Homo sapiens: one gene and its partners. The protein of the gene in region 4 interacts with the protein of the main gene of each other region in a biochemical or structural test. Each region holds a gene or a part of one and is shown on either strand. Other genes may lie near its edges. The genes, in order: RGS3, SNTA1, USH1C, KCNA5, LDB3, DLG4 and SYNPO2.

Evidence for each region.
Region 1: the proteins of KCNA5 (region 4) and RGS3 interact in a test that uses a peptide from one of them, tested with the Homo sapiens proteins (one large-scale study listed by IntAct).
Region 2: the proteins of KCNA5 (region 4) and SNTA1 interact in a test that uses a peptide from one of them, tested with the Homo sapiens proteins (2 studies listed by BioGRID and IntAct).
Region 3: the proteins of KCNA5 (region 4) and USH1C interact in a test that uses a peptide from one of them, tested with the Homo sapiens proteins (one large-scale study listed by IntAct).
Region 5: the proteins of KCNA5 (region 4) and LDB3 interact in a test that uses a peptide from one of them, tested with the Homo sapiens proteins (one large-scale study listed by IntAct).
Region 6: the proteins of KCNA5 (region 4) and DLG4 form a complex in vitro, tested with the Homo sapiens proteins (2 studies listed by BioGRID and IntAct, with this or other methods).
Region 7: the proteins of KCNA5 (region 4) and SYNPO2 interact in a test that uses a peptide from one of them, tested with the Homo sapiens proteins (one large-scale study listed by IntAct).

Annotation. Positions count from the first base shown.
Region 1 is NC_000009.12:113,469,776-113,473,834, reverse strand, and holds part of RGS3 (regulator of G-protein signaling 3), read right to left. Parts: intron 1-4,059. UniProt on the Homo sapiens protein: Down-regulates signaling from heterotrimeric G-proteins by increasing the GTPase activity of the alpha subunits, thereby driving them into their inactive GDP-bound form.
Region 2 is NC_000020.11:33,409,970-33,413,181, forward strand, and holds part of SNTA1 (alpha-1-syntrophin), read right to left. Parts: exon of another isoform or gene 2,814-3,212; coding exon 2,606-2,813; exon of another isoform or gene 2,458-2,605; coding exon 2,327-2,457; coding exon of another isoform or gene 2,217-2,326; exon of another isoform or gene 363-2,216; coding exon 166-362; coding exon of another isoform or gene 134-165; exon of another isoform or gene 84-133; intron 1-83. UniProt on the Homo sapiens protein: Adapter protein that binds to and probably organizes the subcellular localization of a variety of membrane proteins. May link various receptors to the actin cytoskeleton and the extracellular matrix via the dystrophin glycoprotein complex.
Region 3 is NC_000011.10:17,492,881-17,496,448, forward strand, and holds the end of USH1C (harmonin), read right to left. Parts: intron 2,798-3,568; coding exon 2,689-2,797; coding exon of another isoform or gene 2,473-2,688; exon of another isoform or gene 1,533-2,472; intron 1,497-1,532; coding exon 1,452-1,496; 3' UTR 1,020-1,451; downstream 1-1,019. UniProt on the Homo sapiens protein: Anchoring/scaffolding protein that is a part of the functional network formed by USH1C, USH1G, CDH23 and MYO7A that mediates mechanotransduction in cochlear hair cells. Required for normal development and maintenance of cochlear hair cell bundles.
Region 4 is NC_000012.12:5,042,466-5,047,039, reverse strand, and holds KCNA5 (potassium voltage-gated channel subfamily A member 5), read right to left. Parts: upstream 3,162-4,574; 5' UTR 2,893-3,161; coding exon 1,051-2,892; 3' UTR 252-1,050; downstream 1-251. UniProt on the Homo sapiens protein: Voltage-gated potassium channel that mediates transmembrane potassium transport in excitable membranes. Forms tetrameric potassium-selective channels through which potassium ions pass in accordance with their electrochemical gradient.
Region 5 is NC_000010.11:86,727,259-86,731,317, reverse strand, and holds part of LDB3 (LIM domain-binding protein 3), read right to left. Parts: intron 1-4,059. UniProt on the Homo sapiens protein: May function as an adapter in striated muscle to couple protein kinase C-mediated signaling via its LIM domains to the cytoskeleton.
Region 6 is NC_000017.11:7,196,998-7,201,056, forward strand, and holds part of DLG4 (disks large homolog 4), read right to left. Parts: intron 56-4,059; coding exon 1-55. UniProt on the Homo sapiens protein: Postsynaptic scaffolding protein that plays a critical role in synaptogenesis and synaptic plasticity by providing a platform for the postsynaptic clustering of crucial synaptic proteins.
Region 7 is NC_000004.12:118,887,289-118,891,943, reverse strand, and holds the start of SYNPO2 (synaptopodin-2), read right to left. Parts: upstream 3,091-4,655; 5' UTR 2,908-3,090; coding exon 2,803-2,907; intron 1-2,802. UniProt on the Homo sapiens protein: Has an actin-binding and actin-bundling activity. Can induce the formation of F-actin networks in an isoform-specific manner.

The DNA of each region.
Region 1 (4,059 bases), on a different chromosome or scaffold from region 4:
ATGTTTCTTAGATGTTTACTAGGTACTCAGCACTTTACTATAAGCTTTTTATTTCTTTTACTCCTCACAATAACTCCGTGAAATGGTTACTACTTTTATCCCAATTTACAGGCAAGGAAGCTGAAGATTATTAAGAGGTAAACAGGTTGGCTGGGCATGGTGGCTCACACCTGTAATCCCAACACTTTGGGAGGCTGAGGCAGGATGATCACTTGAGGCCAGGAGTTTGAGACCAGTCTAGGCAACATAGCAAGACTCTGTCTCTCCAAAAACGTTTTTTTAAAATTAGCCGGACGTGGTGGTGTGTACCTGTAGTCCCAGCTACTCAGGAGGCTGAGGTGGGAGGATCACTGGAGCCCAGGAGGTTGAGGCTGTAGTGAGCCATGATCACACCACTGCACTCCAGCCTGGGCAACAGAGTGAGACCCCAACTCAAAAAAAAGAAAATAGCTAAAACAGGTTGTCCAAATCACACAGCCAGTAAGTGGCAGAGCTGGGGTTTGCATTTAGGCAGTCCAGGGCCCCCACTGTTAGCCTCTCTATACCTATCATGGGTTTAAAATTTGTCCACAAAGTCTTTGATACTCTTCCTTTCAAGAGGTGAAGCCTAGTTCCTCCCTTCAGACATGGGCTGGACTTAGTGACTTGCTTCTAACAAATAGAATGTGGTAGAAATGACAGTGGATGACTTTCAACATTAGGATATTAAAGGTATTATTAGTTCCTTCTTTTTTTAACAGCTGTATTGGGATATAATTAACATATCATACATTTCATCAGTTTTGTTTATTATTGAGATGGAGTCTCACTCTGTCGCCCAGGCTGGAGTGCAATGACATGATCTCAGCTCACTGTAACCTCTGCCTCCCAGGTTCAAATTATTCTCCTGTCTCAGCCTCCTGAGTAGCTGGGATTACAGGCATGCACCACCCACACCTGGCCAATTTTTTGTATTTTTTGTAGAGACAGAGTTTCACCATGTTGGCCAGGCTGCTCTCGAACTCCTGACCTTAGATGATCCACCCGCCTCAGCCTCCCAAAGTGCTGGGATTGAGCCACCGTGCACGGCCACACTTCACCAATTTAAAGCATGTAATTTTCTTTTAGTATATTCACAGGATTCTGTAATCAATCACCTCTATCTAATTTTAGAACATTTTCATCCTCCCCTAAAAGAAATCCCATACTCTTTCGCAGTCACACCCTATTCCCTTCTCCCCTCAGCCCTTGTCAACCACTAATCTGCTTTCTGTCTCTAAGGACTTGCCTATTCTGGATACTTATGTAAACAGAATCACACAACGCATGGTCTTTTGTGATTGACTTCTTTCACTTAGCATAATGTTTTCAAGGTTCACCCATATTGTAGCACGTATCAGTATTTTAGTCCCTTTGTGGCCAAATAATATTCCATTGTATGGATATACCACATTTTGTTTATCCACTCATCTGGTGATGGATATTTCAGGTTATTTCGACTTTTTGGCTACTATGAATAATGCCGTTATGAACATGTGTGTGTGTACACATGTTTGTGTGAGCATGTGTTTTCATTCCTCTTGGATTTATACCTAAGAGTGGAATTGCTGGGTCAAATGGAAACTCTACATTTAATTGTTTGAGGAACCGCCAAACTTTTCCAAAGTGGTTGCACCATTTGACATTCCGGCCGGCAGTGTACAAGGGTTCCAATTTCCCCTCAACTTCTTCAACGCCTGTTATTGGCTCTTTTTTTATTATAGTCATTCTAGTATGATAGTATCTCATTGTGGTTTTGATTTGCATTTCCCTGATAACTAATGACATTGAGCATTTTTTCACATGCTGTTAGCCATTTTTCTTTGGAAAAAAATGTCTATTCAAATCCTTTACCCATTTTTGAGCTGGGTTACTCATCTTTTTATGGGAGTTCTTTCTTGCTTTCATTTTTGTATCACTTGCCTAGAAGGAAGCCAGCTGCCACATAATAAGGAAGCTCAAGCAATCCTACGAAGAGGTCCATGCGATGAGAAACAGAAGCCTCCTAATTACAGGTAGCAAGGAACTGAGGCCTCCTGCTGAGAGCCATGTGAATGAGCCATCTTGGAAAGGGACCCTCCAGCCCCAGTAATGCCTGCTCGGACAACTGCAGGTAGGCAGGCAGGCAGGGAGAAAGAAAGGAGGGACGGAGAGAGAGAGCGGGGAGGGGAGGAAGGGACGGAAGAGGCAGGGAGGGAGGAGAAAAGGAGGGAGAGAGGCAGAAAGGGAGGGAAAAAAAAACAAAAACCAACTCAAAAAAGCTTAGAAAATATATGTAGGGGACTTCCATTTCTGGGATGACAGATCCACTGAGGAAAACTAGAAATGCTAAACAAAATATGTTAAAGCATCTTCTTAGATAAACAACAAGAGAGAGAGGAGCTACCAGGCAGGATCTAGGGGAATGGAGGACTGTAGAAGGAAACCTAGTGTTTTTCTGGGCTAATTTCCTCCTGGGGTGTTTTCAAATTCCAGAGGGCTGATTGAGAGATCAAGAGACTGAGTGAGTTTCTGCCTGCTTCTCAGGGCTAGAGGAATAGGAACTAGGGACCAGGGCCCACCAAGAAGCAGGGTTCTTCTGAGCCCCACCTTTTGCATAGGGACCCTGAAGGGTTGCTCCATAGGAATAGAGTGAACTGTAATCAGACACAGCTACTCCAGGGACTACAGCTCGATTTCAAGTACTCTCAGTCCCAACACTGAATTAAGACTAACCCAGTGACCCTAGGCACCTGACAAACGAACAAAGATTTTTTGAAGGAAAATATCATCCTAGGTCTGCATTGAGAAGAAAATAATAATAATAACAACAACTCTCTGCCTATACTGTTTGTTTGTTGTTTGTTTGTTTTGAGTCAGGGTCTCACTCTGACACCCAGGCTAGGGTACAGTATCACAATCACAGCTCACTGTAGTCTTGACCTCCTAGGCTCAAGTGATCCTCCTTCCTCAGCCTCCCAAGTAGCTAGGACCACAGGTGCACACCATCATGCCCAGCTAATTTTTTTATTTTTTGTAGAGATGAGCTCTCACTATGTTGCCCACACTGGTCTCGAACTTCTGGGCTTGAGTGATCCTCCTGCCTTGGCCTCCCAAAGTGCTGGGATTATAAGCATGGGCCACTCACCACTCCCAGCCATGTGCCTGTTCTTTGCAGCAGACACAGCACACCTACAATGTAGATCCAAAAAGGTTGAAAGAAAAAGGATGGAAAAAGATATGTCAGGCAAATATTAAATGAAAGAAGCATGGTTAGCTATGTTAATATCAGGAAAATTAGACTTTATACCTACTAGAAATAAAGAAGACTTCATAACAATAATAGATTTCATAATAAAAATTTCAGCTCACCAGAAAGATAATAATTCTAAATCTGTATGTTGTTAACATAGCTTCAACATATGTAAAGGAAAAACTGACAGAACTGCAATGGGAAATAGACAAATTTACAATCACAGTGGGAATTCTAATACACCTCTCTTAGGAACTGACAGAGAAAACAGGAAAAATCAACAAGGATACGGAATATTTGAACAATATAAAGAGCAAACTTGACCTAAACTTGACATACACAAAGAACACTGCACCCAACTGCTGCAGAATCCTTTTCAAATACACAAAGAACATTTATAAAAATTGACTCTTTGGGAGGCCAAGGCAGGTGGATCACCTGAGGTCAGGAGTTCGAGACCAGTGTGGCCAACATGGTAAAACCCCATCTCTACTAAAAATACAAAAATTAGCCAGGCATGGTAGTGGGTGCCTGTAATCCCAGCTACATGGGAGACTGAGCCAGGAGAATTGCTTGAATCCAGGAAGGGGAGGCTGCAGTGAGTTTACATTGCGCCACTGCACTCCAGCCTGGTGACAGAGTAAGACTCAGTCTCAAAACAACAACGACAAAAAAAAAAAAAAACAACTATATGCTGAGGCATCAAGTAAATTTTGATTAATTTCAAGGAATTAAAAGGATGGAGAGTATATTCTCTGACTAAAATGCAAAGTAAATATAAAAATATTACCAGAAAATCCCCAATATTT
Region 2 (3,212 bases), on a different chromosome or scaffold from region 4:
TTGCCAGACTGGTCTCAAACTTCTGACCTCAGGTGATCCACCCACCTTGACCTCCAAACCCCATTTTCTATCCCCTCCTGAAGTGCCCTAAAGAAGGAAGCTTGAATGCCCCTGGGGATAAGAGGCTTATTACCAGAGGGACACTCCCAGATCCTCCCAGCACACCTGTAGACACCTCCTGCACACCCTCGGCGGCCCGGTGACAGCCATCCACAAGCTGGCGGGTCCAGGCAGCCAGCTCCTGCGGTGACTCCACGCTGAACAGGTGAGTGTCCACACCGTGACGCGTGCCCGTGCGCAGGGCAAAAGAGAGCTCTGCATCGTAGGGCACTGAGCCCTTGGAGGGGCCTGAGTGCACCAGTCTGGGGGTTGGGGGCAGAGGGCTGAGCATGAGGCCTCAGGCCGGAGGCAAATAGTTCTGGGCAAAGGGGCCAGTGACCTGGGAAGAAACCCTGTAAATCCTTTACCACCTAACAGGACAGGACTTGCCAGGGGGCACTGATTGACTCAGCAGGAGACATCTCCTGCCACCCTCCCCGTCACTCCCTTGGCTCTGGCTATACTGGTGTCATCACACACACCTAGCACATGCCTGCCTCAGCACCTTTGCATATGCTCTTCCCTCTGCCTATACATGCTTCCCTGATTATCTGCACGGCTCACTCCCTCACTTCCTTCAGATGTTAGTTTAAATGTCACCTCCTCTGAGAAGCCTTCCCTGACCTCCCAGTCCAAAATAGCACCCTTGTCACTCACTAGCCTTACTTTTTAATCATGGTACCAGAAATTATACTTTTTATTATTTGTTTTCGTTGGTTTTTGACTGTCTTTTTCACTAGAATGTCAACTAGGTTAGAAATTTTGATCTTGTGTTCACCACTGTATTCCCAGTAACTAAAACCATGCCTGCCCACAGTAGGTGCTCAGTAAACTTTTGTTGCCTAACTTGAATCACTTGATTAGGCAGACAGTCCAGGACCTAGTTATCCCTAGTAGCCAGCAGGCTCCTGACACACGGGCCAGAGCCAGCCTGAGGTAAGGAGACATGGGGGACAAGGACTTCAGACCCCTGCAGCTTGACTCTCACTTGCTGTGTGGCCTTGGTAAGCCAACTGCCCCTCTCTGGGGCAGAAAGTTCTGCCCCATATCCCTCTTTGTTCCTCCCTCCACCCACTCTTTCTCCTATAGCTCAGTTCCCCCCGCCACAGACTGCTGCTGACACCCGCCTTCGACTTTCCAGCCCTGAGCTGCAGACCCTCGAGTCCCCAGGCTTCCTATCCAAGCTCCCTCTCCATCCCACACACACTCTGGACTTAACTCAGCATCTTGCTCCAGCCTCCTCCCTTTCCACCCCCACCCCCAGTCCCACGCTCACCCAGACACAAGCTCCAAACCTCCTGTTCATTCCGGACCCCTCCTTCACCCGCCCCATCTGGCAAGCACGGAGCCCTGTTAATTTTACACCCATGTGGTTTCCAATGCCAATGCTGCCTTTCTTCCCCATCTGCTCCTGCCACCCACCTCCACCTCCCCCAGCCACCATCATCTCTCCTGCATGACTGCAGCACCTCCCCACTTCCATCCTGCACTCTCCGCTGCATTCTCCACGTGGCAGCCACAGGGATTCTCTTAAAGCAACCAGAGCACCTCGCTCCCCAGCTTAAACCCTTCAACACTACCAAACTCTTAAGCTAAAGCTAACATTCCTTAATCAGGCAATAGAAGCTCTTCAAGATCAGGCCCTGCCAACTCCCTTCTCTCCATTTCCTGCATGAATTCTGGTTATCACAAACTCATAGCTCCATGAACATGCTATAGCCCTTCATGCCTCTGTACTTTTGACCATGATGTTCTCTCTGCATGGGATGCTCTTTCACCCTTTCTTAAACAGAAAACTTCTACTCATCCATCAAAGTCCAGCTCAAATGTCACCTCCTCCCTGAAGCCTTCCTCTACTACCCCAACAGAGTTAAGTGGCTCCTACAAACCCTGCACTGTAATGGCTGTTCCTGGGTCTGTCTCCCCAGCCAGACAAGGTTCTCTCTGGAGGCAGAAACTGTTGGGGTCAGCTCTGTGCCCTCTGAACCATGCAGCACAAGGCATAAGTGTCAGCGAATGAGTGGCTAATGGGGACCTTATATCCTTTTGTTCCAAGCACCCATTTTACAGATGAGGAAACTGAGGCCCAGACAGGGCAGAGACTTGCTTCAGGTCACCTGGGGAATAGCTGAGGGTGGACAGGGCTGGAGTTCCCAGCTTCTGGGGCCCTGCTGGAGCATCTCCTGGCAAGTTCTGGGGGAGACATACTGCCCCTGCCTGTGGGTACCTGGTGGCGATGAGTGGGGCAGTACGGGCTGGCCGGCTCAGGGCCTCGCGGGTCTCGGGGAGAGACAAGTAGAGGAGCAGTTCCTTTTCAGTTAGCAGGGCCAGGGTGGGGGCTGTGCCCCCACTGGGCAGCTGCAGAGAACAAAACAGCAGTGAGGATGGGTGGGGGAAGAGAGGGCAGAGGGCCAGGGCAGGGTGAGGTGGCCAGGGGCACTGGGAACAGGGCCAGCTCCAAAGGAGCGGAAGAGAGAGAGGGATAGGTCCCAGGCCCAGCAGGTACCTGCTCAGTTAGCCAGCCAATCTGCTTGATGTCCTGGCTCCCAGCTGTGCTGGTGGCTGCCAACAGTGCCTGCAGCTCATCCTTGACCCGCGGCGTCAGAGTATTGACCTGGGCTTGGATGGCAGTCGCCCACGACCTCGCACTAGCCTCATCCTTGGCCCTCAGGAAGAGGGTGTCTTGACCATCTGCCGAGCAGATCTCCAGATACCTGCAGGCACAAATGGGTGGAGACAAGGACCTGACCATTAGGCTGCAGCTGCCCAACCCTGGCCCAAGAAACCCCACCCACCACCAAACCAGGAGAAACCAGGGGGATGTCCGTGAGAGAATCAGGAGCAACCCTCACTGCTGGGCTCCAGCCACAGTTGCTGGGGCTTCATGGGGCATAGGAACAAGCGAGTGTGACATATACACACGTGTTCATATATTTTGTGGGGTTTTTGTTGTTGTTTTTGAAACAGAGCCTCGCTCTGTCACCCAGGCTGCACTGCAATGGCCCAACCTCTGCCTCCCAGGTTCAAGTGATTCTCCTGCCTCAGCCTCCCAAGTAGCTGGGATTACAGGCACACGCCACCACACCCATATAATTTTTGTATTTTTAATAGAG
Region 3 (3,568 bases), on a different chromosome or scaffold from region 4:
TTAGTCTGCATCCACTGTGGGATGAAGTGGGGGATTCAGCTGAACATAGGGCTGAACCTGGGGGATGGGCAGTGGGTGTGTCCCCGAGGGGCTCTCTGCAGTGTCCCACCTCAGGAAGGGGTTTTCCTGTGGTCCCCTCACACAGAGGCACTCTCCCTAAGACTGCCTTCCCTTGGGACCCCAGTCCACTTCCTTTCCATACCCAGGGTTTGGTGGGGGAGGAGAGATGTCATAGTCATCCTCTGGTAGGGGTGGTGATCATGACTTGCTGCCCACGGTCCTTGCTGCCTCAGCAGCCATGTTGGGTGGGATGTGACCCCACCCCCGGCCACAGCTGATTGGACCTGTGACTGGTCCCTAACCCAAGGGTCGCCCGCTCAGGTGATTTGGCCTGATCAGATTGTACCACAGGAATTTGGAATGGGGAAACAGAGACGGGGTCAGGCGAGTCGTGCTGATACAGCCCCACCCTCTTCCTCAGAGCTAGCAGCCCTGGTCCCTGTCACCAGAAGAACTGTGACATTCCCCCTGCTGGGCCCCCGGAGTTATGCCTTCCTGCCTCAAGCCCTTGCATTTCCCATGAGCTTCTGTGGGATGTGCTTCCACGGAGGGAGTGGACCCTGCCATCTTCCTCCCTCACATGCTGTCGTGGTGACCTCAGGAGAAGCATTGGTGGCTGTGTCGTTCTTGAAAGAAGCTGGGCACCCCATATCATGAGGTGACCCTTCGGGGCTCCTGCCTTCAGCTCTGCTTTCTGGAATTGAGCAAAATCCCTGCCACACAGACTTCATCTCCTACCATCTCTGCTGAGAAGACATTGAAGCCCAGCCCAGCCCATCTCCTGCTTTCTCAACCTCTGCTCCAAGCCAGCCCTGGCCATTTGATCACACCCTTCATGTCAGACCCAGATCACAGCACTGGGATCTGTCTATCACCCTTGAATAGGGGCCACAAACCTTATGGTTTTTTGATTTGCAGCCTTGAATCTGCTGCCCAAATCCACACTCACTCCTATAAGCTGGAAAATAAATCTATTTTATTAATGAGCTCAGAGTAAGGTTTGGAGTGACAATCCTGGCAGCAATTAGAGCAGAGGGCAGAGGAGAGGGATGGAGAGAGAGAGACTCCAGTGGGGTCTTATTAGGGTTCAAGGAAGGAGTCCCCCAGAGCTGGGAGAGACCAAATTCACTGGGCCAGAGGAAAGGAATGAGAGTCTGGATCCTTGAGATCTTCTCCCAAATGGCTGGCTGCTCCCTTTCCTCCACGTTGGCCTTCAGAAGAGTGGCCCGAGCTGTTCCTTATCTGGCCCTGGTTCAGGGCCAAAGGGAGTTTGAGATTCCTGGGTGATAGATTCAGGTCCCAAGGATGCCATCTGGTGTGTGTAGTGTGGCCTCTCTCAAGGCTGATCCGAGGCTTTGTGTTCACGAGGTGGGGCCGGAGCTCACTGTTTCCTAACGGTGAATTTGGTTTCCCCTTTTGGACTTCAGAAGAAGGTCCTGCAGGGAAGTGGAAACAGCCCAGGTGGATACAGGCTTTGTGGGTGCACACTCAGCCCAGCCAGAGCAAGGCCCCACAAGGGGGAGTACCCACTCTGGCAGCACAAGGCCCTGCCACCCTTTGGAGACCCCTCTGGGTGCAGGCCCCAAGTGGCTACACACCAGCCACAGCCACAGCACACAGGAGGCCAGGGAGAAAGCGGGAGGGACACCTGGGATGGGGGAAGGAGGAGACTGGGAGGAACAGGGGCAAGAGTCCTTTGCAAAAGGCAAGTAACAGAAAACATAGGGCCATGCAGGCCACCCCAGAAGCCATGGTCTACCCGGCCAAGTGTCTTGGGAGCATGAGGCCCTAATGTTTTGGGAAAGTTGTAACAGAAAAGTCAAGTCCAGGCTTGGGTCTGCCCCAGATGCTGCCATCTGTGGCTTCAGGCCACACCAAACACCAGTTTCACAGCCACCTGCCAGCTCTGTCCACGGGCACATCCCTATCACAGGGTGAGAAACACATCCTACAGCTGGGTTCCACGGTATATCCCACAGATAGAGCCCAGAGCCAAGGAAGGGAGAAGGCAGAGAAGACCGTTTGGTCTAAGCACGGCTCAGGCCATGACAGGGCACAACAGGACATGAGCAACTCTAATCCACCAACCCTGGTTCTTTGGACCAGCCTTCAAAACCTCTTAATAGCCCTGGTTCTGGCCAAGTGTGGGGGCCATGGTGGAGCAAGAGCTCCCAGGAGGTTGGCATTCACAGGAAGGGGAATTTTCACATTCTGTTGAGGACATCTCTTGGGGGCAATTCCAGCCAGGCTTCCTGTGGGCTCCTTCAGCCCCACATGCCTGGTTCGAGGCATTGTCTGTGTCCCTCAGAGAATGTTGCCCAGGGCTTCATCCTGCTCATTTGGGTGCTGCTTGGGACCCAAAGCAGGTCCCAGGGCCGTGATGAGTCAGGACACCTGGGTCCCAAGCAAGTACTACAGACTGGGCTTTGCACCACTTCCCTGAGGGGAGGGCTTTGAGTCTGAGGAATTCCACTGTGGCCAACAGCAGGCCCCAGGCAGCACTTCAGGGATGGCGCCTTGTGTACCCTCCAGACGCCAGTCCAAAGAACCTGCTGACAGCGTGGGCAGCAGATGGCCACTGCAAGCAGCAGGGACACACAGGGCCCTGTGGCCCGCCTGCCTATTCACCGTGGGCTCCAGCTGCAGGAGGAACCCGTGTCTGTGCACGGCAGCACGGTCTTCAAGGAGCTTTCGGACCGGTTGGGGGCTTTCAGCTACGGAGGAGGGAAGAGAAGCTCTATATATACAGAGCAGAGCAAGAAACACAAAACAGGCTTGGTTACTCCCAGGCAGAGCTCCATGGGGCTTCTCCTTTCACTGGGCTCCTGCCTCGGGTTCTGCCTAGCCCCTGGGTTCCAGAATTAGGAGCTGCGAGACCCTGGTTTCTCCAAGACATGTGTAGAGCTCAGATTCTGCTGGGCACGGGGAGCAAGCAGGCCCAGCCACGACAGGGAGGCAGGGCATGGTCAGTGAGTGGGTGAGTGGTGGGTGGGTGAGGGCTGGGGAGGTGATGGGATGAGGTGAGGATGGAGGTGAGACACCACACAGAGGCAGAGAAACAGAGAAAGGCAGACAAAGAGGTAAGAATGGATGCAGAATGACAAGGACAGAGGAACAGGGACTCAGAGACAGGGATGAAGAGAAACAGGAAGAAAGAATAGGAGACAGTGAGAGAGAAAGGGGACCGGGATGAAGGGGAAGGAGGGGGGCAGATAAGATGTTGACAGGAAGGAAGGAAAGGGTGAAAGAAAGACAGAGAGGGAGGAGGAGAGAAGACAGAGAGACCCACAGGACACAAGAGACAGACACACAGGGAATCACAGAGAGAGACAGTCTAGGCCAAAGCTCCCTGGAGATCCCACAGCGTGGGGACAAAAGCCTGTGGTCCCGGCTGCCTAGAGGCACAGTATGAGTGAATGCAGTTAGACATCAGGAAGACCTTCCAGAGAGTGAAGGATGGACACAGACACCTTCTAACCATCTAATAATGGGGCAGGGGATAAAGTTC
Region 4 (4,574 bases):
TGATACTACTGCTTCAGAGAGCATCTCACAGGGGCGTCCGTGCCATAAACAGCCTGGACAAAATTCACCCACCATTGTCTATGAGGCACCAAGGGGTGCACTGAAAAGACGTCGCCAAGCAAATCATGAGCTTTTCAGATTTCCTCTAACCCCAGTCAATGCGTTTGCTCTGATGTCAAAACCAGAAACAGCCAGTGACAGACTATTTTTAAAAATTTCAGAAAATGTATCAGCTGCAGAAAAACTAACACTTGCCTCAACAAGGTAACCTTTTATTTCCTGGGATAAAAATAAAGACAATAAATTATCAGAAGTATTCCTCCAATATCATTAAAATGCTTTTTGAAGAAAGTTACAAGAATTGTTTAAGGCGCACAGAAAAAGTCAGATTTGCCTTTCTTCAAGAACATACTCTGCCCTAGACACAAAGCACCAATACCACATCCCAGAAAAGACAGAGGCTTGGAGACACAGGAAACAGAACAGCCCATACCAAGATCTCTGACTCTAATATAAGTAACACAGAAAAACATCAGGACAACTCTTTCTTCCATAAATACAACATGTATCTTGAAAATATACCCAAAATATCTCTATCTGAACTACAGTACAAAAAGCCACTTACCAGGCATAAAAATAATATTTTCCCCTATACACAAATACAATCATATGTAAAGCAAATTTGGAACACATGGATGGAGGAGTTACATAATCTCTTGGGATCTGGGCTATTTAGAGTCATTTTTGTTTGGGTTATCCCTCTGCTGGGTATAGGAGACTGGCTACAAATACATCCATCTCACAGCGCTCACCATTTCCACAGCTCCTGCGTCATGGAATGTGGTACTTTTTAAAAATAGGCGACCCTTGGGTGTCATGGAAAGAATAGAGAAAATGGGGGGATCGAGGGAGGGAGGAAAGGAGTGAAAGGAGAGGGGTAGACTGAGGTTACAGTGTGACTTCAAATACTCTGCGGTATAATGTAGATATCCATGTTCAGCAAGCCTCCCATTCCCTACTCCACTGCCACCAGTCTGCCTGAATCTCCTTTCACAAATCTGTTTCCCGGCTGGTGTCCAGGCAGAGGGCATAAAGGGACCTCCGCAAGTCCACGTTGCTCTTGGCCTTGACGTTACACTTCTCTAGGGGGCAGCTGCCCCTTCGGGCACTGTCTGCATTCTCCAGGGTCCCCCCAGCCTTGCAGAAGGATCCCCTGCTCCCGCTGACCTTCCGCTGGACTCCTCTGTCCAGCCCCGGCCCCTGGCTCTGAGTGCCCTGCTCTTCCTTAAGGACTGCCGGCTCCTCGTGATCCGTTTCCCGGTGGTAGAAGTAGTTGAAGTTGGAGACGATGACGGGCACAGGCAGGGCAATGGTGAGGACCCCGGCGATGGCACACAGCGAGCCCACGATCTTGCCCCCAACAGTGATGGGCCTCATGTCCCCGTAGCCCACAGTGGTCATGGTGACCACTGCCCACCAGAAGGCGTCAGGGATGCTAGAGAAATGGGTTCCCTGGTTGTCAGCCTCTGCGAAGTAGACGGCACTGGAGAAGAGGATGACCCCGATGAAGAGGAAGAAGATGAGCAGCCCCAGCTCCCTCATGGAGGCCTGCAAGGTCTTGCCCAGGATCTGCAGCCCCTTGGAGTGGCGGGAGAGCTTGAAGATGCGGAACACCCGGACCAGGCGGATGACTCGGAGGATGGCCAGGGACATGGCCTGCTGCCCATTCTGGCCGCCTCCTCCACCCCCTGGCTGCTGCTCTGCCAGTTCGGTGCCCAGGGTGATGAAGTAGGGGAAGATGGCCACCACATCGATGATGTTCATGATGTTCCGGGAGAACCCTGCCTTGCTGGGGCAGGCGAAGAAGCGCACGAGCAGCTCGAAGGTGAACCAGATGACGCACGTGGTCTCCACGATGAAGAAGGGGTCGGCCAGGGTCCTGGGCAGGAGCGGTGCCACCGTAGGGCCAGAGGGCGGGGCCATGACCCCGCTGCCGTTGGCCCCAGGGGCGGGCGCGGGAGGCTGGTGGGGCGCCGGAGGGTGGCGGAGCAGCTCACGTTCATCCCTGAACTCAGGCAGGGTCTCCAAGCAGAAGGTGATGATGGAGATGAGGATAACCAAGACCGAGACGATGGCGATGGCCCGCGCGGACCCAGAGCTCTCCGGATACTCGAAGATAAGCCACACCTGGCGCTGGAACTCGTTGCGGGGCAGGGGCTTCTCCTCTTCTTTAATGAAGCCCTCATCCTCGCGGAAGCGCTCCATGGCCTCGTCCCCCAGCTGGTAGAAGCGTATCTCGTCCGCGAACACGTCCAGGGAGACGTTGACCGGCCTCCGCAGGCGGCCCCCGGACTGGTAGTAGTAGAGGATACCGTCGAAGCTGGGCCGGTTGCGGTCGAAGAAGTACTCGTTCCTCAGGGGGTCGAAGTAGCGCAGGCGCTTGGCGGGGTCCCCCAGGAGTGTGTTGGGGAACTGCGCCAGGGTGCCCAGCTGCGTCTCAAAGCGCAGCCCGGAGATGTTGATGTGGACGCGCTGGTGGTGCAGGGACGCCGTGCCCAGAGCCTGGTCCTCCACCGTGCCCAGGCCGGGATCGCCTTCTTCCTCCTCGTCCTCGGGAGGCGGCCGTCGAGGCCGTGGCAGCTCCTCTGGCAGCGGAGGCAAGGGCCGCACTCCCGGGTCCGGCAGCGGAGGCAAGGGCCGCACTCCCGAGTCCGCGTCTCTCTGCGCGCCGCGCCCCTTTGGCGCCGGCTCCTTGGGCCCATCGCTGAGCCCAGCCGTCGGGGGACACTGGAGCTCTCCCCCTGTGGCCTGGCCGCAGCCTGCCCGGGCCTCATCGCCTCCTCTGACGGTCATGGCACCGCCGTTCTCCAGGGGCACCAGGGCGATCTCCATGGCGCGGGAGCAGAGGGCATGCTGCGCCCCAGCTGACCGGCTCCCGCGCCCCCTACTCACGCTCCGCGGGCGCCTGGCGTCAGGCTCCGCTCCAGCGGTCGGCCGGCCCCTCTCTGGGGAGAGCTGGGGTTGCTGGCGCGATCCCCTCGCTTGGCCCTGACGTCAAGAAGCCGCTGCCCTGCTCTCTGCCTCTCTCTCTTCTGGCAGCCCGTTACCAAGCAGCCGAAAAGCCTCCTTCCAGCAGATGCAACCTTCAGCCGCCCCTCTCTGGCTGCGCCGCGCTTGGCCTCCACCCTCGGCGCCTCCCCCGCCTTCCCCTCCTCTCCCCCTCCTCCCGCTTCCCCTCCCGGGTCTCGTGGCAGCGGGTGTCTCCCCGGAGGGCGCAGCTGGGGCCCCTAGCAAGGGAAAGGAGGGGCTGAGAAGGGTGCAGCCCAGCGGAGGGAGGGAAGGAGTGGGGAGGATGGAGGAACAGGTTGTACCGACAGCGCTGAAATTCCCAGGGCAACCAGATGAGAATAGCTCTGGATTTCAGTTCACCTGGGAACCCGCTGGAAGCCGAGTGGACTCCAGGAGGAACGAAGTGCCTTGGGCTAAAGGGACGAGGCTTTGAGCTGAGTCGGAGTATGAGAGACAGAGACGGGAGACACCAGTCCTTTTTATTTTGGAGAAATAACGGTATTTCTTTGGGAAGGATTACAGAAGGGAGGGGGGCCACGTAGTTACGGACCTTGAAATACATGTATCAATGGAGAAGCATCTCTCTTCCCGTCTTCCTACAGATCCACAAAAATGTACAAGGGGGTTGGAACCCTGCAGGATTCCCATGCCCTAGCCTGTTTCCAGTACAGACCTGGTGGCAGCCCAGGCAAGCAGCCTAGTCAGGAGATGAGCTGTCTGGTCTCAACCCAGCAGAACCCCTCCACCCGCTCCAACGAATCCCATTTGCAAAAACCACAGCAGGGAAGGGGAGAAGCGATTTTTACAATCCTGGTGAGGGCTAATCCTGCCTGGTGAATCTTGGACCGAGCAACTGCATCTAGGTCCATGAAGGAGACTGAGGGTGGAGGTGGCTTATGAGAGGGAGCCAGGGAGGTTGTCCAATCTCCAAGGCTGGAGCATTCCCAAGAATGGAATAATAACAACCAATACTTACTTGGCTCTCATTATGCACCAGCCCACTCTCAGCACTTTACAAATATTGTCTCTGTGTATTCCTACAGCAACCTATTTTGTAAGTACTATTATCATCACCATTTTATAAATGAAGAAACTGAGGCACAGAGAGATTGACAGACTCACCCAGGCTTATGCAGGTGGAAACTGATGATGCTGGAACTCAAACTCAAACAATCAGAGTTTGGCCCTTGTCCCCTATATTTCACTCCTCTATAGAAATGCATAATCCCTTTTCCTGATACAAGCACTCCCTCACTCCAACATCTGGCCTGAGAACTTTAGTTCCCTGCTGCAGAAGGCAGGATGATGGCTGATATAACATATTAATCTTTCTAGGTTGGGACACTAGGAAATCTTCCCCTGCCCTGTCTCAACCCCTGCAGGGTTTTAGCAGGCATTGGTAACCAAGAGGAATCTGTTTCAAGGTGTGTGTCTGGAACTGCCAGACACAGTCTCCAGAAGTTTCTTGGTTTTAAATTATCATAAAGTGGCTGTGTTTTTGAATG
Region 5 (4,059 bases), on a different chromosome or scaffold from region 4:
GGAAGACGGAGGTTTCAGTGAGCTGAGATCATGCCACTGTACCCAAGCCTGGGCGACAGAGCGAGATTCCGTCTCAAAAAAAAAAAAAAAAAGGTAGATATGGAAAAGTATGCAGAGAAATATACAAAAAAACAAAAGAGATGAAATTCTTTTTTTTTTTTTTGAGATGGAGTCTCACTCTGTCACCCAGGCTGGAGTGCAGTGGCGCGATCTCAGCTCACTGCAACCTCTGCCTCCCGGGTTCAAGCAATTCTCCTGCCTCAGCCTCCCTAGTAGCTGGGATTACAGGCGCCCACCACCATACTCAGCTAATTTTTTTTGTAGTTTAGTAGAGACAGGGTTTCACCATGTTGGCCAGGCTGGTTTCAAACTCCTGACCCCAAGCAATCCACCTGCTTTGGCCTCCCAAAGTGCTGGGATTACAGGCGTGAGCCACCACGCCCAGCCCAAGAGATGAAATTCTATATCCCCATGATGACAACATATAGTCTGAGGCTGGAGGCATCCCAGAAAGAAGAGAACTAATTAATATTTGTGGGGACTACCATGGACCAAGCAGGATGCCAGACACTCTATATACAGCAGCTCATTTAATTCTCATGAAAACCTTATAAGGTAGGTAAGCCTTTCTCCCACTTCACAGCTGAAAAAACTGGGGCTCAGAGGGCCCATACGTCTTCCTTAAGTCACAGACCTAGTAAGTTGTAGGCTGGGAATCTCTGTCCATGTCTGTAAGACTCCAGTTCTATGCTAATTTTTCCCCTACCCCATAGAAGAAAGGGACTGTGTTTACTTGAAATTGATCTGGGTTCATGGGTTTGTACAGATGTAGCCCTCTGAGTTTGCTGGACTACTAGTATGTAAGCTGGGCCCTGGGTTGGCAATATGCCAGTAGGTCAGAGTCTGCCAGGAAATCACATTGGCTGGCATGGGTCCCAGCTTAGGAGAGGGCAGTGAAGATCCCTGCTGGGGGGCAGAATTGGGAGCCATCTCCAGGACACTGACATCAAGAGGAGTGCACGTGGAGTCCCCACATACAGGTATCCCCCATGGAGACAGAGAAATCACCCCCTTGAGTTGAGCTTGGGGCAATATGCATGTATTCAGTCCAAGAGAGTTGGAGAGGAAAAGGGCACCACGCTAGCCCCATGTGCAAGGCTCTGATGGTCCAGTTGGGGACGTTATACCTAGGATCACACAGGGCTTCCAATTGGGTTCTGGGAGCCAATGAGCTGCAAAAGTGTTTGAAAACATCCCAGGTGGATGCAGTGATGCTGAGTATAACCAGGCTCGTGTGGAGGCCTCAAGCTGCTGGTGACAATTTAAAGACTATGCAAAAAGATGGACATCCAAGATCTAACTGGTGAGAATGGGCTTTAGGGAAGACAGAAAGGCATCTCTGGAATGAGTCAGCCTGTCAATGACTGCAGCTGTGGGTGGGAGACCATACCTGGACTGGGACAATGCTGGTTGCTTGTGAGAACTTTGGGATGAGTCAGGCTGGGGAGAGAAGGTGTCCAGGGACTGAAGACCAACAAATGAGAAAGGGACAGAACCTCAAAGATGGCTCATAGGTGAGATGGGGCTGAGGGTGGGAACCCTCATAAGGAGTTGTGCCCAGTGTCTTCTTGGTGCAAGGTGGCTTCATAGTGGAGGAGGCCTTCTGCCCACCCAGCACAGGGGGCAACAGGGATGGTCCAACCCCCAGGCTCTGTGGCTGGGTGACATCAGGGCCTGGCTATAAAAGGGTAGCGACCATGGACAGTGCTGACTGCAAGTCCCAGCAGAGTTAGGGTAATAAACTAGGCCAGCTGCAGCAGCCCCTAGGTCTGCCTACAAAAGTTATATTACTGCCCATCCCCTCCTGATACCCACACCAGTGGGGAAGGGCAAGACTTAGAGCAAAAGAGGGATGGGTAAGACATTTTTCCTCCACTAAGGTCGGACCCTTTCCATTGGAACTCAAGTGTCGACGCCAGACAGAAGCTTAACTTTCACCCTGACCCACAGTGCACTTCTCAGGCTCCCAGCCTTCACTTTATATGCTTTGGACTTGAGGGATACTGTCCTGTTCTACTTTTGAATTGCTCACATCTGTTGCTTTGTTCACCTTTCAAGATTCTAGATTCCGTCAGGGTAGAGACTTGTTCTGGAACACTCTTGTACTGCCCAAATGCCAGGAATATTTGGTAAACTGAGTTAGTCTAAAGAATGTGCTATCCTGAGATCTCACTGGTTAGAAAACAGCACATCAGCTGGGAGAGCTACCCCAGATCTTTCTCTTACTAATTTTTTGGAAGTTACAGGAAAATACATGCTCATCAAAAGTGATTTGGAAATATGAAGTGATAGAAAGAGGACCAAAAAAAAAAAAATCCCTCAAGTCCCTCAAAGTTTTCCAATCAAAAGATTTCTTCCTAATGTTAAGACCATGTTCCGGCTGGGTGTGGTGGCTCACACCTGTAATCCCAGCACTTTGGGAGGCCGAGGTGGGTGGCTCATGAGGTCAGGAGTTCAAGACCAGCCTGGCCAAGATGGTGAAACCCCGTCTCTACTAAAAATACAAAAATTAGCCAGGTGTGGTGGCAGGCGCCTATAATCCCAGCTACTCAGGAGCCTGAGGCAGAGAATTGCTTGAACCTGGGAGGTGGAGGTTGCAGTGAGCCAAGATCGCACCACTGCACTCCAGCCTGGCGACAGAGCAAGACTTTGTCTCAAAAAAAAAAAAAAACAAAAGAACCATGTTCCACTTTGCTATATGTTGACAGAGCAGTGAGTATCATGCAGGCTGGTTTGGAGGGAGACCTAACGATCTCCATGTTGATCCTCTAAAGGGCAGTGCTATGGGCCTCTCACAGGCTGGACTTCACTCTCTGGAACTTATTTGTAATATCAGCCTTAGCCACCCCAAGCTTTACGCCTTCTTCTGGTCTCTCTCTTGGACTTTTGCTGTTGTGACTCAGCTGAAATTGCGAGGCTTGCAGAAGCAGACCCACACTCACCTTTGCCACGATTCCCTCTGCATGTGACACAGACCTCTCATCAGCCTGCCCATGGAAAACAGGCCTTCTGTGCCACTGTCTTCCTGGACCTTCCCCAAGTCTCTTGGATCCTTCCAGAAGTTGGGTAACCAGATGTGCAGGCAGTGCCTCAGGACTAGACAAGCCATGGCTTGAATGTAAGGTTCAGAGACCCCTGTGCTGTGCCTGACACAGGGGAGCTATGACTCTGCAGGGGACAAACCCAAAGCCAGTATACTTACACCATTGTCTCTTTTTGGAGGGGATGTATTTAAAACACCCTAAAAGACAACTAGAGAATCTGTTCAAAGAGCTAGAAAATCAGAGTGTTAAGGGGTTGAATTGTATTCCACAAAATTCACGTGCAAGAAGGCAGAGTTTGCCGTGAGCTGTGATCACGCCATTGCACCCCAGCCTGGGCAACAAGAGGGAAACTCCATCTCAAAAAAAAAATAAAAAAAAAAAGGAGACCCACACAGAGACAGACACACTCAGAGGAGAATGTCATGTGAAGACACACACAGAGGGGAGACAGGCTTGTGACAATGGAGGCAGGGATTGGAGTTACACAGCTGCAAGCCAAGAAATGCCAAGGATTGCTAGCAACCGCTAGTAGCTCGGAGAGAGACTATGGCCTCCTGTCAGCACCTTGATTTAGGACTTCTGGCCTCCTGAACTGTGAAAGCATTCATTTCTGTTGTTTGAGCCATCAGTTTGCAGTAATTTGTCAAGACAGCCCTAGCAAACCGACACACAGAGTGAATACAGTGTGTCCCACAGATGGCGGGGTATGGAAGCGAAGTGTGGAACCAAAAGTATATGGCCGTAAACTTTATGACTAGGGTCATCCTATGTCAGAAGTCTATAAAAATTATTCAAGTAAAAACTGTACAGATATTTCATACATTTCCAAAATTTACCTTGAGACACTCTGGTTAAAAAAAAAATAGTAGAGGTGTCTTAATTTTCCCAAATCAGCCAGGCGTGGTGGCTCACGCCTGTATTCCCACAACTTGGGGAGGCCAAGGTGGGTGAATCA
Region 6 (4,059 bases), on a different chromosome or scaffold from region 4:
TCGGTGCCCAGGTAGCTGCTGTGACTGATCTCATTGTCCAGGTGCTGGGAATAAGCTGAGGAAGACAGGGCAGAGATGAAAGTGCCTGGAGGGAAACAGCACCCGCCACCCAACCTTCTCCCCAGGGTGCCAGAAGAGCCAAAGTTAGGTGGAAGGGAAGATATTCTGCCAGAGATGCCAGGGTGGGGTGGTAAGGGGATATCAGATCACAGTGACATCAGGGGTCAGGAATTTATAGGTGACATCAGAGGCTGGTTGTCCTAGGGGATAAAGGATTTGAACGTTATATGTCCTCAGTATGCCAGGGATGGGGAAGTCAAAGGGAGCATTAATATTACGCTTTGGGGGTTTTCTCTGGGTTCCTGTGTCACTCGAATCTCTTAATCCATAAAATTCTTCTCCCTCTTTTTTCCCCCCACCTCTCTGCCATCCATTCGTTGAAAAAACTAGGTCATTTGTCTAAAAGAATTTCCCACATTCTATGAGGGAAATTCTTTTGTTTTTTTGGGGTTTTTTTGAGAAGGAGTCTCAGGCTGGAGTGCAGTGCCGTGATCTTGGCTCACTGCAGCCTCTGCCTCCCAGGTTCAAGTGATTCTCATGCCTCAGCCTCCCAAGTAGCTGGGATTACAGGCGCGCGCCACCATGCCCAGCTAATTTTTGTATTTTTAGTAGAGACAGTGTTTCACCATGTTGTCCAGGCTGGTCTGGAACTTCTGAACTCAAATGATCCACCCGCTTATGCCTCCCAAAGTGCTGGGATTACAGGCATGAGCCACCTTGACCAGCCTATGAGGGAAATTCTAACAGGGAAATTACTGCTTACCCTCCTGTGGTTTGTTTAGCCTATGCCTCTGCCCCTGTATCTCCTGTAAACTGGCAGTTCATTCTGGAGGCTTGATCAGTTTCAAGTTCAATTCAGAGTTTTTTTTAGTAACTCCTGTATACTTCATAGGTAGCGCTACGTTCTTCCTACAGCATCACCACAGGATGCAATAATGCCTGGTTGTCTTTCTGTCAGGTAAGATTAATGGTAGGTTCAGGGTCATCAGCCCAGTCCATCCATTATCTAGCGCCCCATCAGCCTTTCAGGTAAGTTTTAGCCACACTGACAATCACCGCCTGGTTCTGATAAGTATCAAGGACTGCAAAATGGTGGTGATTGTCATTTACTAGTGGGAATTCTTCTGTAAAAAAGAAAAATCTCGACCAGGCACGATGGCTCATGCCTGTAATCCCAGCACTGTGGAGGCCAAGGCAGGCAGATCACTTGAGGTTAAGACTTTGAGACCAGCCTGGCTAACATGGTGAAATCCCGTCTCTACTAAAAATACAAAAATAGGCTGGGCGTGCTGGCTTACGTCTATAATCTCAGGTACTCGGGAGGCTGAGGCAGGAGAATTGCTTGAACCCAGGAGGCGGAGGTTGCAAGGAGCCAAGATTGTGCCACTGCACTCCAGCCTGGGTGACAGAGCGAGACTCCCTCTCAAAAAAAAAAAAAAAAAATTCCTCCAGCTTGGGTAACATGGTGAAACCCTATCTCTACAAAAGACAAAAGTTGAAAGTTAGCTGAGGCTGGGCGCAGTGGCTCACGCCTGTAATCCCAGCACTTTGGGAGGCCGAGGCAGGTGGATCACAAGGTCAGGAGTTCAAAACCAGCCTGGCCAAGATGGTGAAATCCCATCTGTACTAAAAGTACAAAAATTAGCTGGGCGCAGTGGCAGGGCCCTGTAATCCCAGCTACTCGGGAGGCTGAGGCAGGAGAATTGCTGGAACCCGGGCGGCAGAGGTTGCAGTGAGCCAAGATCGTGCCACTGCACTCCAGCCTGGGTGACAGAGTGAGACTCCATCTCAAAAAAAAAAAAAAAAAAGTTAGCTGAGCATGATGGCACTCGCCTGTAATCCCAGCTACTCGGGAGGCTGAGGTGGGAGGATCGCTTGAGCCCAGGAGGCGGAAGTTGCAGTGAGCCAAGATCACACCACTGCACTCCAGCCTGCTGGGTGACAAAGCAAGACCTGCCTCCAACAAAAAAAAAGCAAAAACAAAAACAAAAAAACAGCCCTATGTCAACCTGTTGGTTACTCTCTGAGGTAGCTGGTACATGAAAGGGAGGATAAATGCATGCCTCTCTCTGCATGCCTCTTTCCATTCATTCACCAATTTCAGAATGAATGAGATTGCCTAGCATCCTCCAATTTTTTTTTTAATTATTTATTTTTTTGGGATGGAGTTTCACTCTTGTCGCCCAGGCTGGTGTGCAGTGGTGCGATCTTGGCTCACTGCAACCTCTGCCTCCCAGGTTCAAGGGATTCTCCCACCTCAACCTCTCCAGCAGCTAGGATTACAGGCACCCACCACCACGCCTGGCTAATTTTTTGTATTTTTAGTAGAGACGGGGTTTCGCCATGTTGGGCGGGCTGGTCTCGAACTCCTGACCTCAGGTGATCCGCCTGCCTCAACCTCCCAAAGTGCTGAGATTACAGGCATGAGCCACCGCGCCCAGCCAAAATATTTTTAAGTATTATTATGATCTTAAAGATTTTAATATATTTAACGAGTTTTCACTGGACAGTAGAAGCACCTTCAGTTTGGATCCTGTGTCTTTGCTGAGACCCTATTAGTCCTGGATACCTTCCTTGCTCTCTAGTATGAAAGAAGTTAGAAGCTCATCTTACAGATTTATTGCCAAAGATTTTAAATTGGCTGGGCACGGTGGCTCAGGCCTGTAATCCCAGCACTTTGGGAGGCCGAGGTGGGGGGATCATGAGGTCAGGAGATCAAGACCATCCTGGCTATCACGGTGAAACCCCATCTCTACTAAAATATACAAAAAAATTAGCCAGGCGTGGTGGTGGGCACCTGTAGTCCCAGCTACTCGGGAGGCTGAGGCAGGAGAATGGCATGAACCCGGGAGGCGGAGCTTGCAGTGAGCCAAGATCGTGCCACTGCACTCCAGCCTGGGCGACAGAGCGAGACTCCGTCTCAAAAAAAAAAAAAAAAGAAAAGAAAAAAAAAGATTTTAAATTGACCCTTCTTCCAAGGAGCCCAGGTTCCTTTTGTTAGGTTATGGTATTTAGGAATAGTACCACATGATTTTAATATGGTTTTACAGTATTATTTCATATTTTGTAGGGGCTGCCACACCTCATTATTTGTTTCCAAAATGTCTTAGCTTTTCCACACAAATTTTTCCAGTCAAACTTTAGTGTCAACCTTCCAAGTTCCCAGTAGGGAAACAACATTAAAATTCTGATTAGGATTGAATGGAATGTAGATTAATTTGGAGCCGGTTGAGATCTTTAGCATATTAAGTTTTTCCATCCAGAGACACGGTGTGACTCCTCACCCCTTCCAGTCTTGTTTTATGTCTTTCAGTAAAGTTTTGTCATTTTCTTCATACAAATCTTACATTTCTTGTCAAGTTTCTATTTCTAATAATTTTATAGAAATTTTTTCTATGGCAAAAGGGGGCTTTTTATTCACTACATTTTCTTATTGCTGGGAAGTTACTAATTCCTGTTATTTATCTTACAAATAGCCACATTCCTTTTTTTTTTTGTCGTTTTTTGAGACAGAGTTTCACTCTTGTTGCCCAGGCTGGAGTGCAATGGCGCGATCTCAGCTCGCCGCAACCTCCGCCTCCCAGGTTCAAGCAATTCTCCTGCCTCAGCCTCCTGAGTAGCTGGGATTGCAGGCATGCACCACCATGCCCGGCTAATTTTGTATTTTTAGTAGAGATGGGGTTTCTCCATGTTGGTTAGGCTGGTCTCGAACTCCCAACCTCAGGTGACTCACCCATCTCGGCCTCCCAAAGTGCTGGGATTACAGGCATGAGCCACCGGCGCGCCCAGCCTGTTTTGGTTTTTTTTTTTTTTTTTTTTTGAGATGGAGTCTCGCTCTATCGCCCAGGCTGGAGTGCAGTGGTGAGATCTTGGCTCACTGCAAGCTCCGCCTCCCAGGGTCAAGGAATTCTCCTGTCTCAGCCTCAGGATTAGCTGGTATTACAGGCGCTCGCCACCACACCCAGCTAATTTTTTTTTGTATTTTTAGTAGAGACAGCG
Region 7 (4,655 bases), on a different chromosome or scaffold from region 4:
CAAAAAGCCAAAATGTGTTATTGTCTACAGAACTGCTTTGTAGCATTCCCATTTTAAGGAGCATGGTTCAAGCACTCGCCGAAATTTTCTTTTCTTTGAAAATTTAAGTTTTCCTTCAACTCCCAAATTAATTTTGTGCATGTTATTCAAAACTGTGAACATTTGATTTGACAGCAACCATCTCTCTAGCCTTTCTGTCTCTTTCCTTGCATCCAGCCCTAATAAGCTATCACCAGTCCTTACAAGAAGAGAAAGTTTATGCCCAAGCAACATTCACTTTGCCTTGAACACATTGAGATACCATGAATAGAATTGAATTGACTTAATATTTTAAATAAAATACAGTGATCCTAATGAGGCAATGGCCTTGATAACAGAGAAAGTGATAAGCGCTTTGTTCCAAGGGATTTCTCCCACAAATAATGCTAGTATAAGAAATCAAACATAATCATTTGAACTAAAAAAAGAAAAAGACCAACAAAAATTGTGCATTGCCACAGTAATTTAGAACTTACATCTTCTATAGATAGCTCTTTAGTCTTTTTAACGTATGGACAAAAGGTAGACTGTAGACTACAGTCTGTCTCTCTCTCTCTCTTGCACACACAAACACACAAAAATTAAGGCAAACTTCCAGATACTTTTATAATGATATTTTAAAATCTATAGCTCTAAGTATAGTATCACAAACTACAAAAGCAAAGCAAACATCTAGATGCCTTAATAATGATCTTTTGAAAACCACAAATGTATTGCTGGGTATTTTAGGAAGGATGATTTAGGGGGAGTGTAGGACTGGATTCTGACATAGCCTAACAACCTTACTGAATCCTGAAAATAGAGATGCCATTAGCAGAGAATCTCCACAGCACCCTTTCCTAGCAATCTGCTTCAGCTCTTCAGTGAATCGCCGCAAAGAGGTCCCACATTGAAATCGTCACATGCAGAACTCAGAAGAAACCCACTACCCACTCTATTCTTGAGGCCTGGCTGCCAAAGAGCCACCAGAGAACAACAGCACTCAGCCACTCTGTCCCCATATTTCAATTAGTAGGCAAGCGATTCTAAAACTGTACACTATCAGGATCGTAGAATACTTGGGCAAGACAGAGCTTCGTAGACTGCACAGTCCAATTTCTTTCTTACTTCTTTACCACCTAAGTTAAAATATTTGTCTCTCTCTCCCTACACACACACACACACACACACAGAGAGAGAGAGAGAGAGAGAGAGAGAGAGAGAGAGAAACCGATGAGACAGGAAGGGTGAGAGATTTTCCTAAGGCCAGGCTGCAAGTTAGATCAGAGCTGGAATTAGAACCCAAATCTCATACCTAGAGCCAGCCAACTGCTATTCTAGACTCAGGACAAATCTGCTTCAGTGTCATGAATTCTACATATGCTAAATTGGGCATTCATATTTTATCTGAGGTTGCCTGCTATTGACTCCTAAAGGAACCCAACAAAACCACCTTTCTGAGCCTTTAATCACTCTGCCAGTTCCAAGCTGAAAACTTAAGGCAAGTTACTTAACATCTCTGGGCTCTTTCCTCATCTAAAATTCATGGGTTGAACTGCAGACCTCGGAGGAACTTTCCAGTAATAAAAACTCTGCTTTTCATCTACTGTTTTATGGTTCATTCTTGATGTTTGCAATTTTCACTAGGTGGCAGGATTCCACCATCACATTACGAAAGGATTTACATATGATGCCTGGAAGCAAAAAGGAGTTTCAAAGAAACTTCTTTCTTCGCAAAGGACACTAAAAAAAAAAAAACGTAAAAGGCAGAGGGAAACAATAACTACAAAAAAAAAAGAGTAAAAGCCAGAGGGAAACAAACAATAACTACAAAGGCAATGGCCCATGTATTTCATAAAGATCTGTACCCATTTTTAATATAAGCATAAAATAGGAAATTAATCCCATGCTCTTGCATGTTCTTCAATACAATACTATAATTTGCAATTTGATGATAAGGTTAGGTAAAAGTTTGCTTAGTTTTGTGCATTTTAAGTTTTATTTTAGCTGAATGCCAATTAGAGAATACCAGATCCCCTTGGGCTAACCAGTAATGCAGGCAATCTAATGGCAATAAAAACTTAAAGCATTTTAAATAGTTATTAATGTGTTACAAAGTTACCTCTTAGTTACTCATAATATATTTAGATTATCTTCTAAGTTTATTTTTGAGATCTTGACCAAAAGAGTACATAAGAAGGAATACAGCATTTATTGGATTTTTGCATTTATTTGTCAAATCCTTAAAAGGGTATTCTTTTAAATAGATTTTATGACACTTCATCATACTTTTAAAATTATTGCCCAACATTGGCCTTTTCATGAATGCTGCATAATAAATGTCACTACCAACACTCTATATGAGTCCCCAAAATAGCCAAGCAAAGTCGTTATGCTGAACTGAGCGTTTCTCCTCTGCCAGAGCCAAGTGAAGTGACATCAAACAATAACTCAACTGAACATTCTAAAATTGCCTGGAAGAAACGCTCCCCAGTGTCTTGCTTGTTGTCAGAAGAACATGGTTAACTAGGCCTTTTCCTCAGCTGATAAATATGGCATTCTTCCCACCCACCCCTCATCGATTGCAAGTTAATTACATAGGATGTGGCCCATTACTCTCCAAAGTTTCTTAGAAAATAACTCACTTCCTAGAAAAATCTTAATATCCGCAGCAAAATCAAATAATACTTAGACTTCTGCATCAGAACCTGAAAACACCATCAGCAGGTTGCTTTCATTCCTTCCTTCCTAGCACAGAGCCGTGACACTTCGTTCAGGTCCTACCTTTGCAACTTGTAAGGGCTGCTTCTGCTCCTTGCCACCTTGCAATCTGAACCCCCAGGGCGCCCCTCCAGTCATGGAAATGCAGATAAAATCCCCTGTGCCCATGTTTTCCTTTTAGTTGGGCAGCATGAAGAGCTTGACGAGACAGACGAAGCTTGGGTGCGGTAGAGGATGCGCACTCAGCTTCGGGCGCCTGCCGAGGACGCAAGACTGGGTAATGCAGAGCGTCCGCCGCTGCTGCAGCCGCTGCCCCAGCCGCCGCCCCAGCCGCCTGCTGCGAATTTGTGCGGCTAATGGGCTCATTCTCAAGGAGGCAGAGGCGCTCGCAGCATCCAGGACACAGCCCACTCTTGCGTCACTCTCCTTTGCTCGGCCCACCTTCGAGGAAAGGAAAGCAGCTTCACACACAGGAGAATGTCCTCACGTGGGGCGAGATAAGGGAAAGGAGGACGGAAGGGAGAGCCAAAGTTATCTTGCACTAACAGATTAAATCCAAGCAGTTAATGGTATAAGTATGATTGAAAAACTTACATTTAATAATTCTGTAAATAGTAAAGGACACATGAAGGTTTAATCTCCACGCCATGAATGACGTCCTAAAATAGGAGCGTTGGGAATTCAACTACTAGAGGATTAGATTCTCTCAAATAAATGTTTTGAGACTTGCCACATTTATGAATGGAATAGACAAAAAAGAGTTAAAATGAGTTAAATTACTACTTTTCTGTCTGCATTCTGCTGAATTATTCCTATAAGAGGAAACAAAAGAAAGCACAAACTTTTTGTTAATAAACCTCCAGCTCTGAAAAGTACCTTTCTGAACCATATATTTAGAGAAAGGGGAAGAGAAGAGACAGAAAGGGAGAGAGAAAGAGAGAAAATGAATATGAATTTTTCTCCTGGAAACTACATTCTTATAATTACATCTATTGCATAGTTTTGGGTATGTTAAATTTTAACGTGTTTTGTTTTCTTTCTACCTGCTGATCTTCTTAAACCCAAACCCAACAGTTAGTCAACTGCATAAAATGTACAATGTCACCTACAGGTTTCTTATTTTTATAGTTTGTCATCCCATGTCATGAATCTGGGTGGTCCAATATAAAAGCAGATTTTGTATATTCCAAATATTTAAATGTTTTAAATCTGAATACAATCTGCCAAAAATGTACAAAAAGGACATTTTAATTTTCCTATAATACTTTTGTTTTCCATAACATTCATCCACATAAAAACATACTAAATAAGGAAGAGCCTGGGAAAGTTTGTTTGTGTTACTTGTGGTACCAAACAAAATTTCCAGACACGCTGCCTGTTTCAGCACTAAGAAGCACTATATACAGTAAGTCCTCACTTAAAACGTCACAGATAGGTTCATGGAAACTGTGACTTTAAAACCAATTTTACCATCGACTAATTGATAAAAACAAGGTTAAGTGACTACAGTCTATTTCTGGTCACAAAGACATCACCAAACTTTTAAATAAGATTAAAACACTTCTAATATTAAACATGGAAATAAATGTCAGCTACACATGCATTTAAGAAAGATTAATAAAAACAAGATAATCATGGACCCAATTTTTGGTGAATCAGTGAGTGAGGGCAGCTGTAGTGGTGGTGGATTCAATCAAGGAATAAATGTTTGCAAAAGGAAAATTATAAGGAGTACCTCCTGTCACAATGCAGTTCAAAACCACCACAAATATAGCAGGCTCACTGAGAAATTTCATACAGCATCATCTATTGCTGTGCATTTGTGTGATTAACATATATTTTATGAATTTTTTTTGAAAATAATTTGCATCCATACATTCATTCCTCCTCCAACCCACTTATTCCCATTCAGGATC